3 linked regions of the Homo sapiens genome follow. The protein of the gene in region 2 purifies or fractionates together with the protein of the main gene of each other region. This does not show direct contact. Each region holds a gene or a part of one and is shown on either strand. Other genes may lie near its edges. The genes, in order: GRAMD1B, CSNK2A1 and ARK2N.

Region 1 (3,654 bases), on a different chromosome or scaffold from region 2:
GGGGAGGGATAGCATTAGGAGACACACCTAAAGTTAAATGACGAGTTAATGGGTGCAGCACACCAACATGGCACATGTATACATATGTAACAAACCTGCACATTGTGCACATGTACCCTAAAACTTAAAGTATAATAAAAAAAAATTGTGCCGTCTTATGTTCAATGGTAGTTAAGATGATGCTTTGCAGTTAGACCACTGAAAGAAAAGAGCAAGACTCCAGGCCTTCACCTCCCCACGCTTCCTCCCCACTACACGGAACAGCAGAAAGTAGTTGCCTCGAGCAACACTTTGAGAGTGTCTCTCCCAAGCTCCAGAATCTACGACAGCTCCTCATTGAATTGACTTCACTTTGCCTAGGAAGCGCTCTGCATATAGGATCTCAATACCTGTTTGATGACTGAGTGATTCATTGAAATTCAAACTCTTTGGCATAAATCACCTTCGGTCTGTCAGCCTCACCACCTTCATTTTTCCACATTCCTCAACAAGATCACATTTGGTCATCCATCTCTATCTTCAAGCCAACACATCCAAACTGCTTTCACCTATAGGCATTTGTTAACCCTTCAAAACTCAGCTCTCTATAGATCAGTGGTTGTCTAGGGCTGGGGAAATGGGATGGAGAGGGTGAAGGTGCTAGCCAAAAAGTATGAGTTTCAGTCAGGCACAGTGGTTCATGCCTGTAATCCCAGCACTTTGGGAGGCTGAGGTGGGCAGATCATGAGGTCAGGAGTTCAAGACCCACCTGGCCAACATGGTGAAACCCTGTCTCTACTAAAAATACAAAAATTATCTGGGCGTGGTGGCGAGCTTCTGTAATCCCAGCTACTCAGGAGGCTTAGGCAGGAGAATCACTTGAACCCAGGAGGCAGAGGCTGCAGTGAGCCGAGATTGAGCCACTGCACTCCAGCCTGGGTGAGAGAGGGAGACTCCGTCTCAAAAAAAAAAAAAAAAAAAAAAAGTATGAGTTTCTTTGTGGGGCAACAAACGTTTTTAAAAACTGACTGTGGTGATGGTTGTACATAGCTGTGAATATATTAAAAACCACTGAATTATGCTTTAAATAGGTGAATTGTATATTATATAAATTATATCTCAATAAAGCTGTTTTTAAAAACTCAGCTCTGTACTCATCTCCTTTTGGAAATTTTCCCACACTCATGAATAAAAGAATTTCACTTTAAACAGTAGAGAAAAAGGAATCATTTATTTACTCATTATTAACTCATCAACAAACATCTATAGATCTATAGATCACTGTAAGAGGTCAGGTACAGTGCTGTGACGATACAAAGATGAACATGATTGGTCTTGGAGTATTCCAGTGAACACTGGAAAGTTAGTAAGCCATGCTGTCTTTACCATTTGTTCCACTTCTTCCTTCCTAGGGTTTAAGGAGAAGAAAAGGGTCTCCTAATCCTCTTCATATTTTCAACTTTGTGCAGTGAAAATCCGCAAGCTTGAGCTTCAAGTCAGTGACAAGTAAAAAAACAAACAAACAAACAAATAATGAAACAAATAATGAAAAAACAAAAATTAAAAGAAATCCACAAGCTATGGCCCTCTCAGCCACTTAACTTCTACCACATCACGCTGAATTTCATAGCAAGCCTGAAAGGTGTTTTTCTCTCTTTTGGAGCAGGAGATTTGGGGTGGGGAATGTGGAGACGTCATGCTGGGCCTGGTATGCTAATCCTCCCTAATCCAGGCCAGAGCAGAGCCATTTTCCAACCATCATTTCCAAATCCTGAATTGTGTGAGGAGGCTCAGGTGCTGCTCCAGGACACGTGAGTATGTAACCTCATACTTTTAAGCAAACATCCATTCCATGTGAGAGACTCACAGAGTAATGAAATAAGCCTTCACCCTTGCACAGCAAGAGGAAGTTTGCAAAACATTTTCACATTCACTACTCTTCAGACTTCCCATTAACCCACAGAGATCCTCTTCCACAAATGAAGAAGGTGAAACTCATGGAGGTAAAGTGAAATGCTCAAGCTAATCTCCATAGCTAATCGATGATAGAACTTAAATATACAGCTGTCTTCTGATATTAAGTCCAATGTTCCCTGCACTCCATTGCCTCTAAATGCCAATTCTATTTTCTTTTGGAAATGGAGTCTTGCTCTGTCGCCCAGGCTGGAGTGCAGTGGTGTGATCTCAGCTCACTGAAACCTTTGCCCACAAAGTTCAAGCAATTCTCATGCCTCAGCCTCCTGAGTAGCTGGGATTACAGGCGCGCACTACCATGTCCAGCTAATTTTTGTATTTTTAGTAGCAACAGGGTTTTGCCATGTTGGCTAGGCTGGTCTCGAACTCCTGGCCTCAAATGATCTGCCTCCTCAGCCTCCCAAAGTGCTGGGATTACAGGCATGAGCTACCACACCCCGCCACCAATTCCTTCTCAGGCCACTTGGTGGTATCTACGAGCACCTATTCACTTGATTGCTGCTTTTCTTGGAAGGAAGCCTTTCATCTTCGAGGCCTAAAAATGATGGGGCTTTGTTTTACACACAATCCAAATAGATTCCAACAGAAGGCAGTATAACAGTAGCTAAGAGTAGATGTGAGTCACACGAATTTGAATTTGAATCCAGAGTCTGCCTTTTCAGATACATATGTTCTTGTTTTTTGTTGGTGGTGGTTTTTTTTTTTTTTTTTTTTTTTTGGAAACGGAGTCTCACTCTGTTGCCCAGGCTGGAGTGCAGTGGCGAGATCTCGGCTCACTGCAACCTCCACCTCCTAGGTTCAAGCAATTCTCCTGCCTCAGCCTCCCGAGTAGCTGGGACTACAGGTGTCCACCACCACACCTGGCTAATTTTTGTATTTTTAGTAGAGACGGTGTTTCTCCGTGTTGCCCAAGTTGGTGGCTAACTCCTGAGCTCAGGCAATCTGCCTGCCTCATCCTCCCAAAGTGCTAGGATTACAGGCGTGAGCCACTGCGCCCGGCTGATACATAGGTTCTTCTAATCCAAAAGTCACCACTTAAAATAACTGCCTGAACTACATCTAGATGAAAATCCTGCCAAATTTTAAGGATATGTCCCCAAATCCAACAAAATGAAGGTTCCACTACACACATAGACAACTCTCGAAACCAGGAATACCTTCCTAAATCTAACCAAATCTACTGTCATCCCCATCCTAGCCAGCAATGCAAGATTTTTTTCTTCATACACACAAAGACACACACACACACACACACACACACACACACACGCACGTAACATTTTAAGCGTTGGGGGTGGGGGTCTCACCATGGCTGAAATGCAGTGGTTATTCACAGGCACCATTATAGCCTACTAAAGCCTTGAACTCTTGGGCTCATGTGATCCTCACACCACAACCCAAGTAGCTGGGAATACAGGCCATGCCATTGCACCCGGCTCTTTTTACCATATTTTGTCCTCAGTATATATGGCAGAATCTCAAGATCAAAAGAAGGTCTCTTTTAGTTTCTTTTACATTGGAGGGAAAAGCCGACAAGCCATGACAAACTACTTTATTTATTTATTCATTTAAGATGAAGTTTCGCTCTTGTTGCCCAGGCTGGAGTGCAATGGCGCGATCTTGGCTCACTGCAACCTCCACCTCCCGGGTTCAAGCAATTCTCCCGCCTTGGCCTCCCGAGTAGCTGGGATTACAGGCACC
Region 2 (3,051 bases):
ATGTTGTATTTGCTCTATAATTATTTGTTAAACTCTCCATTTACGTTTGGGGCACTTCTCAGTATATTTGCTAGAGTTCAAATGTTTAAAAGTTTACAAAATGAAAACTGAGCAGAGTAAGACAAGCCAAAAAAGTATTAACTCAGCAGGAATGGGAAAAGTTATGAAAGGAGGGAAAACTAAATATCATACTGCTGGTTCAGCTGTGATTAGAATTTACGTAGTCATAATGGAAACACTGAATACTGGTCTAACCAGGATTACAGTATGATGACAATGGAAAGAGGAGTGATGGGAAATGCTGGCATGTGTGGTGGTGTTGGTAACAGGACAAGCGGTCTAAGCTCTAAACTCTCATCATTTATAAGGGGAACTAATGCCTAAAACTGAAAAATCAAACAGTTGCATGTTATTTTGAGATTTTTTAAATTATTGTTAAGATAGTAGCAGTATTTACTTTTAAAACTATATTTATGTATTACTCTGGTGAAAAAGCAACTACTTTTAATAAATGGATATTTATCTTGAATGCATCCACTTCCTCCCATTCCCGTTGCCAAATTCCTCATCCCAGCCACCATCCTCTCTTGCTTGGAGTATCATAGCAGATAACTGGTCTTGATGCCTTCCCATCTCGTCTCAATTCCTGATTCATCTGACACCTGCAACCAAAGATCTTTCAAAAATAAATATTCTAGTCCAGGCACAGTGACTCATATCTATAACCCCAGCATTTTGGGAGGCCAAGGCCCGATGATCACTTGAGGCCTGGGTAACACAGCGAGTCCTCTGTTCTACAAAAAATGAAAACATTAACTAGTGTGGTGGTGTGTGACTATAGTGCTAGCTACTGGGGAGGCTGGGTGGGAGGATACGTTGAGCCCAGGAGTTGGAGGCTGCAGTGAGCTATGATCACATTGCTCTCAGTGAGACCTGGCTGACAGAGTGAGAACCTCTCTCTTAAAAATAATAAATAAATTTTATCTCAGTCCCTTGCTTAAAAGCCTTTCAAAGACTAGATCACTTGCAATGTTGTTGTCTCCTCCCAAGGGAGTCATTCCTCCCTTCCTCTTTGTTGACAGAGCCCCAGTTTGAGGGACAGCGGGATATCCACCATGCTGCTGTGAGACTCGGGCAGTTGTGACTGGTTTAGAAGTGGATACACAGGGAGAGGTCTTCTGGAAAAGGTCTTCTGGAGAGCTGAGATCAGAAGACAATCAACTGGCTTCAAATCTAAGGAGAGACAGGCACAAAATGGAAGAGATGACATGGGCACTGGTTACCTGGTAAACACAAGTGGACACTGGTGAGGGACTGGGTCATGGAGACTGCAGTAGTCTTTACCCTTTTCAGCGTTTTTCACCATGAACCCCACTGGGAGCACACAGAAGATTGGAGAAAGTTTTAATAAAATGTCTCAAGATCTGGAAGAAGACAATGGCAGCTACTGTGAAAGGATCACAGTGCTCCACCCAGACCCTTCCCTGTATCCCCTACCGGACAAAAGCCTTAGTCTGTGGAGGGAAGGACACCAAATCCTGTCACCCCCTTGGATGAAGCTCCCTTGCATCTGGGGGAATGAAACAGGAACAAAACAAAACTTTCCCTGGGCAGGGGCAGGAATACACACTGGGCCCAGAACTGGGGGAGGAACAGGAGCACTAAGGAGGACATAACCCCAAAATCAGAGACACAAAGGGCCTGACAGAGACTGAGACTTGATCAGAACAGAGAATTCCCTCCTCCCCCACCTGCCAATGGTAAGCTGACAAGCCTTGAGTTAGAAGTAAAAATGTTACAGGAGAGAGACAAGAGTATGGGAAGAAGACCCTTTCTGAGGGTCACAAAGGGAGGACCTAAAGCTGAGCAGGGAGCACACATGGAAGGAGAAAATCCCTCTGGCAGGCCAGCCTGCACCCTCAGTCCAAGGTGTCATTGGAGGAACTGGAAGCTGCTGCATTGGGGGTAACCATAGCAACAATAAACCTCAAACCTAGCCCAACTCTTTTTTTTATTTACTTTTTAGAGACAAGGTCTTGCTCTGTTGCCCAGGCTGAAGTGCAGTGGTGTGATCGCAGCTCACTGCAGCCTCAAACTCCTGGGCTCAAGCAATCCTCCTGCTTCAGCCTTTGTAGGAGATTGGTCAGGGTGGTGGGAGAAATTATAGGAAAGACACAAACCTTCTTGGAAGGCCGAGAGGTTTTGCAAAAGCTTCAGAAAGAAATTATGGCTGAAGGCAGCCAAATTCTTATCTGAAGCCTGAGAGCAAAGGGCAGATAACAGGGGAGTTGTATAGGAACTTACCTAGATAAATTTGTTTATTCCTGTGTCCAGAAACCAACCTTTGATCATTCACACACAGGACTGCTGTCTACTTGGGATGTTGACAATGTTTATTGCCCACAAATTGTGTTTGCTCCAAGCCTTTGTCATTAAATTTGTGCTAAATAAATGTGAGGGCCACCAGCTTAAGGGGACTGCTAACTCTCTTCGGCCCCTAGTGCTGGCAGTCCCCTAGCCTGCTCTCTCACTGAATATCTGTGTCTGAGTACTCCTTTCATCTGTCACTCGGCCAAAGTCTGTGGGACAGACTCGGCAGGTGATTCCCTGTGTGAGGAATGCTGCAACAGATCACGACGGAACCCTCGAAAATGAAGGTGAAGAGACTGCGCAGTCAGTAAGTCATTGGTGCCTGTTCAGCATTTCCAAGTTCAAAGGAATTGCTCAAGCTAGGGACGATCATCATGGGATGACAGTTGTCATCATGGGACAACAGTTGTCAGCTCAACAGCAACAGTATATAAAAGTAGTAAAACAAATGCTGAAAGTTAGCAGAGCCTCAGACAGGCTCAATTATGGGACCTAATGCAAACTGTTGTTTCCCATAACCCATGGCTCTCGGAAGAAGGTACACTAGACGTAGAGCTCTGGGAAGAAATTTTAACATCATGAGCAAGGGCAATGGGTCTCAGTAACATCTTTAACGTTATGGGCTTTAGTTAGGACTGCTTTGGTCCCACTCTACACAGAAAAGCCTAAAAAAGTAAGGGA
Region 3 (3,654 bases), on a different chromosome or scaffold from region 2:
AAGGTACCATCACCAATATTTCAGATTCTTCTAACTTTATTCATTCATTATGGATCTAGAAACTAGTAATATTCCTTCCACATTGTTAGATAATCCAAACAATTCTGGTAGTGCAATTTTTGCCATAAAAATTGCAATCCAAACCTGCTGGTATTTAACATGGTTACAAAACCCAGATGATATGCTAAAACTGGTCACTTTAAATTGGGGTCTGCTATTTTTTTTTTTTTTTTTGAAATGGAGTTTTGCTCTTGTTGCTCAGGCTGGAGTGCAAAGATGTGATCTCAGCTCACTGCAACCTCCACCTCCCGGGTTCAAGCGATTCTCCCACCTCAGCCTCCTGAGTAGGTGGGATTACAGGCATGCACCACCACGCCAGGCTAATTTTGTATTTTAGTAGAGACGGGGTTTGGCCATGTTGGTAAGGCTGGTCTCGAACTCCTGACCTCAGGTAATCTACCCGCCTCGGCCTCCCAAAGTGCTGGGATTACAGGTGTGAGCCTCCGCGCCTAGCCTAGGGTCTGCTCTTATCTGTAATGCTTGGTCAATATACTAGTGCAAGATAAGAGGCATGAGAAAGTGATGGGGGTGCTAAATACAGACTGCCTCGTGAATGTTAACAACTCCTAGACTAATAGTGTGAGACATTTGCCAAATTTCCTGTCAGAGCCTTAGATAAATTGTGCCACACAGAAAACAAATCAGCTAGGACCCACACCAAGGCAATGAGATGCCGTGCTCTACAAGAGACACCAAAGGCATTCTGGGATGCCTCTGCCTCTTCCTTCTTCTATTTCAGAGCCAGGACCATTAGTCCTTTTCTGTCACTGTAACCCTCTTCAGCATCCCACACATTCCTTTGGGAGCTCCAGTATAGAACCTGACATTCTCTGGCCTTTGGGCCTTTTCTGCTCTGCCCCTCCCCACCCCGCCTCACCCCCCATGGAGGACTTCACAGGATTCCAATGGCAGAACAGTGCCTAAAGCATACAGAAAAGTGAGCCAAAGATGCTATGAGGTTCTTCAAATACTGTCAGTGGTAGTAATCTTTTCCAGTTCTAAGACAAGAACAAGCCCTGTAGAGAAAAATGTAAATACCGCAATTACCATATATTAAACTGAAAATAAAGCAGAGCACTTATATTTAGCTATTGTGACAGCTGGCTGTCTCTGTGTAGGTCTCTGCCTGTGTAGGTCTTTGGAAAGATAACTTCTTTCACTATATGAGAAAATTCTAAATTTTGTCCTCCCACTACAGACCTTTTCAACAAGAAAGGGTAAGAAAAAGTTACCAAGAAAAGGTAGTTATCAAAATAGGGTAAGAAAAAGAAGCACAGAAAAAGTAGTAACTAAATTATCATGGAAAACAGTTTCTTTCTGTCTTTAAAGGAAATAATCCAGCTACTTTTTAAACTGTAAATCCACTGGGTAAGAACTAGGCCTGAGCTTTGCAACACACTGAAGAGAAAGTAATACTACATACTGTATGACAGTCGCATGCTAGGCATAAAAAAAATAAAAAAATAAGTCACTACTCATTTAGCTTTAAAAACAGCAAATTACTACTTTTAGTTCTTTTTTTCTTTCTTTTTTTTTTTTTTTATTGAGACAGAGTCTCACTCTGTCACCCAGGCTGGAGAGAGGTGGTGCAATCTCGGCTCACTGCAACCTCCACCTGCCGGGATCAAGCAATTCTCCTGCCTCAGCCTCCCAAGTAGCTGCGACTACAGGAGCCCACGCCACCGTGCCCAGCTAATTTTTGTATTTTTTTTAGTATAGATGGGGTTTCACCATATTGGACAGGCTGGTCTCGAACTCCTGACCTCGTGATCTGCCCACCTCGGACTCCCAAAATGCCAGGATTATAGGCGTGAGCCACAGCACCCAGCCTACTTTTAGTTCCTTAAACAGCACGTTAAACAACCTTAAAAAGTGAAGGAAGAGGGCTGGACATGGTAGCTCACGCCTGAAATTCCAGCACTTTGAGATGCAGAAGTGGGCAGATTACTTGAGATCAGGAGGGCAAGACCAGCCTGGCCATCATGGTGAAACCCCATCTCTACTAAAAATATAAAAAAATTAACGGGGCGTGGTGACGGGTACCTGTAATCCCAGCTACTGGATAGGCTGAGGCAGGAGAATCACTTGAACGAGGAGGCAGATGCTGCAATGAGCGGAGACTGCCACCGCATCCAGCCTGAGCGACAGAGCTGGAATCCATCTCCAACAACAACAACAAAAAAGAGTGAAGGAAGAGCTCAAAAATCTAAAATCTGGCTGGGTGTGGTGGCTCATGCCTGTAATCTTAGCACTTCGGGAGGCCAAGACAGGCGGATCACTGGAGGTCAGGAATTCGAGACCAGTCTGGCCAACATGGTAAACCCTGTCTCTACTAAAAATACAAAAATTAGCCAGGCGCAGTGGCACACACCTGTAATCCCAGCTACTTGTGAGGCTGAGGCACGAAAATTACTTGAACCCGGGAGGCAGAGGTTGCAGTGAGCCCAGAATGTGCCATTGTACTCCAGCCTGGGTGACTGGAGACTCCCTCTTAAAAAAAAAAAAAAAAAAAAATCTAAACTCTTACCATCAATTTGATGCAGATAAACATGAAGAACATGACCATACTTCATCTCCTTCACTATACTGATTCTGAAACATGGCCATTCTGGTCTAATTATTAAAAACCCTACACTAGGAACAGGAAACCCAGGATTCATTTCTCTGTACTGCCACCATGTTAGGGACAAATCAAGATTACCATCCCTATTGTAAGGATGGGGAAAATGCTCAGAACCTACCTTCTTGACAAGAAGGCTGATGGAAAAGATAAGGTATTTAAAGTTTTAACTTCCCAGGGAAAAAAATCCTAAATAAGTTCAGTTTACCACAGCTATAAGCCTTCCTCACCAAGACTTCTGCTTCTTCTTGCCCCAACTACATTTGTTTGCAGTGAGCCCTTACTAGCAACAAAAATGAAGCCATTTTCAGATATATTAATACAGTTTCCTAAACATGCTGGATACAAGAGTTACCTGAGGCTATTATTAAAAAGAGATTCCCAGAAACCATTTCAGATTTATTGACAGAATCATCAGGAGAAACCTAGGAGTGTGAATATTTATAAACACACTGGGTAATTTCTACGCTCTGGCAAAATTTAAGAAGTACTTGTAGCAAGAGCAACTCGTTGCAGTGCAAGAGAGTAATTAGAAATCCAGTGACTGAGCCACTAATCACTTCCTTACTCAGTCTACTTCAGCATATTAACATAATGCTGGTTAGCATTTCTGAGGGCCTACTATGTGCTGTCCTCCGTAGTAAACACACTGTATTTCACTTAGTGGTAACAATAACCTTTTGGAGTAGATACTATAAAGGTTGTGCCCCAGTTTTGTAGATAGGGAAAACTGAGGCTTTATATAATTTACCTGAGGACATGCAGTTTCTAAGTGGCCACTGGTTCAAAATCACCCACTACAGTGTTCAATTCCAGCATCAACTTAAAAAAAGCAAACACATGGCAAGAATTGAAATGGAAAATTCAGGTCTTTTGTTGATCAGTAGCTTCTCTAATTTCGACTTACTTTTTAATCCCTGCATGTGGTTCAAGTCTTTTGCCTAGGTTAAAACTAAAACTAAATATATATTTTG

Evidence for each region.
Region 1: the proteins of CSNK2A1 (region 2) and GRAMD1B purify together in Homo sapiens (affinity purification with mass spectrometry; 4 studies listed by BioGRID and IntAct, with this or other methods). This does not show direct contact.
Region 3: the proteins of CSNK2A1 (region 2) and ARK2N purify together in Homo sapiens (affinity purification with mass spectrometry; 4 studies listed by BioGRID and IntAct, with this or other methods). This does not show direct contact.

The regions. Positions count from the first base shown.
Region 1 is NC_000011.10:123,433,248-123,436,901, reverse strand, and holds part of GRAMD1B (protein Aster-B), read right to left. Parts: intron 1,469-3,654; coding exon of another isoform or gene 1,435-1,468; exon of another isoform or gene 1,187-1,434; intron 1-1,186. UniProt on the Homo sapiens protein: Cholesterol transporter that mediates non-vesicular transport of cholesterol from the plasma membrane (PM) to the endoplasmic reticulum (ER).
Region 2 is NC_000020.11:471,982-475,032, reverse strand, and holds the end of CSNK2A1 (casein kinase II subunit alpha), read left to right. Parts: 3' UTR 1-2,535; downstream 2,536-3,051. UniProt on the Homo sapiens protein: Catalytic subunit of a constitutively active serine/threonine-protein kinase complex that phosphorylates a large number of substrates containing acidic residues C-terminal to the phosphorylated serine or threonine.
Region 3 is NC_000018.10:46,243,522-46,247,175, reverse strand, and holds part of ARK2N (protein ARK2N), read right to left. Parts: intron 1-3,654. UniProt on the Homo sapiens protein: AMPK substrate important for exercise capacity and skeletal muscle function.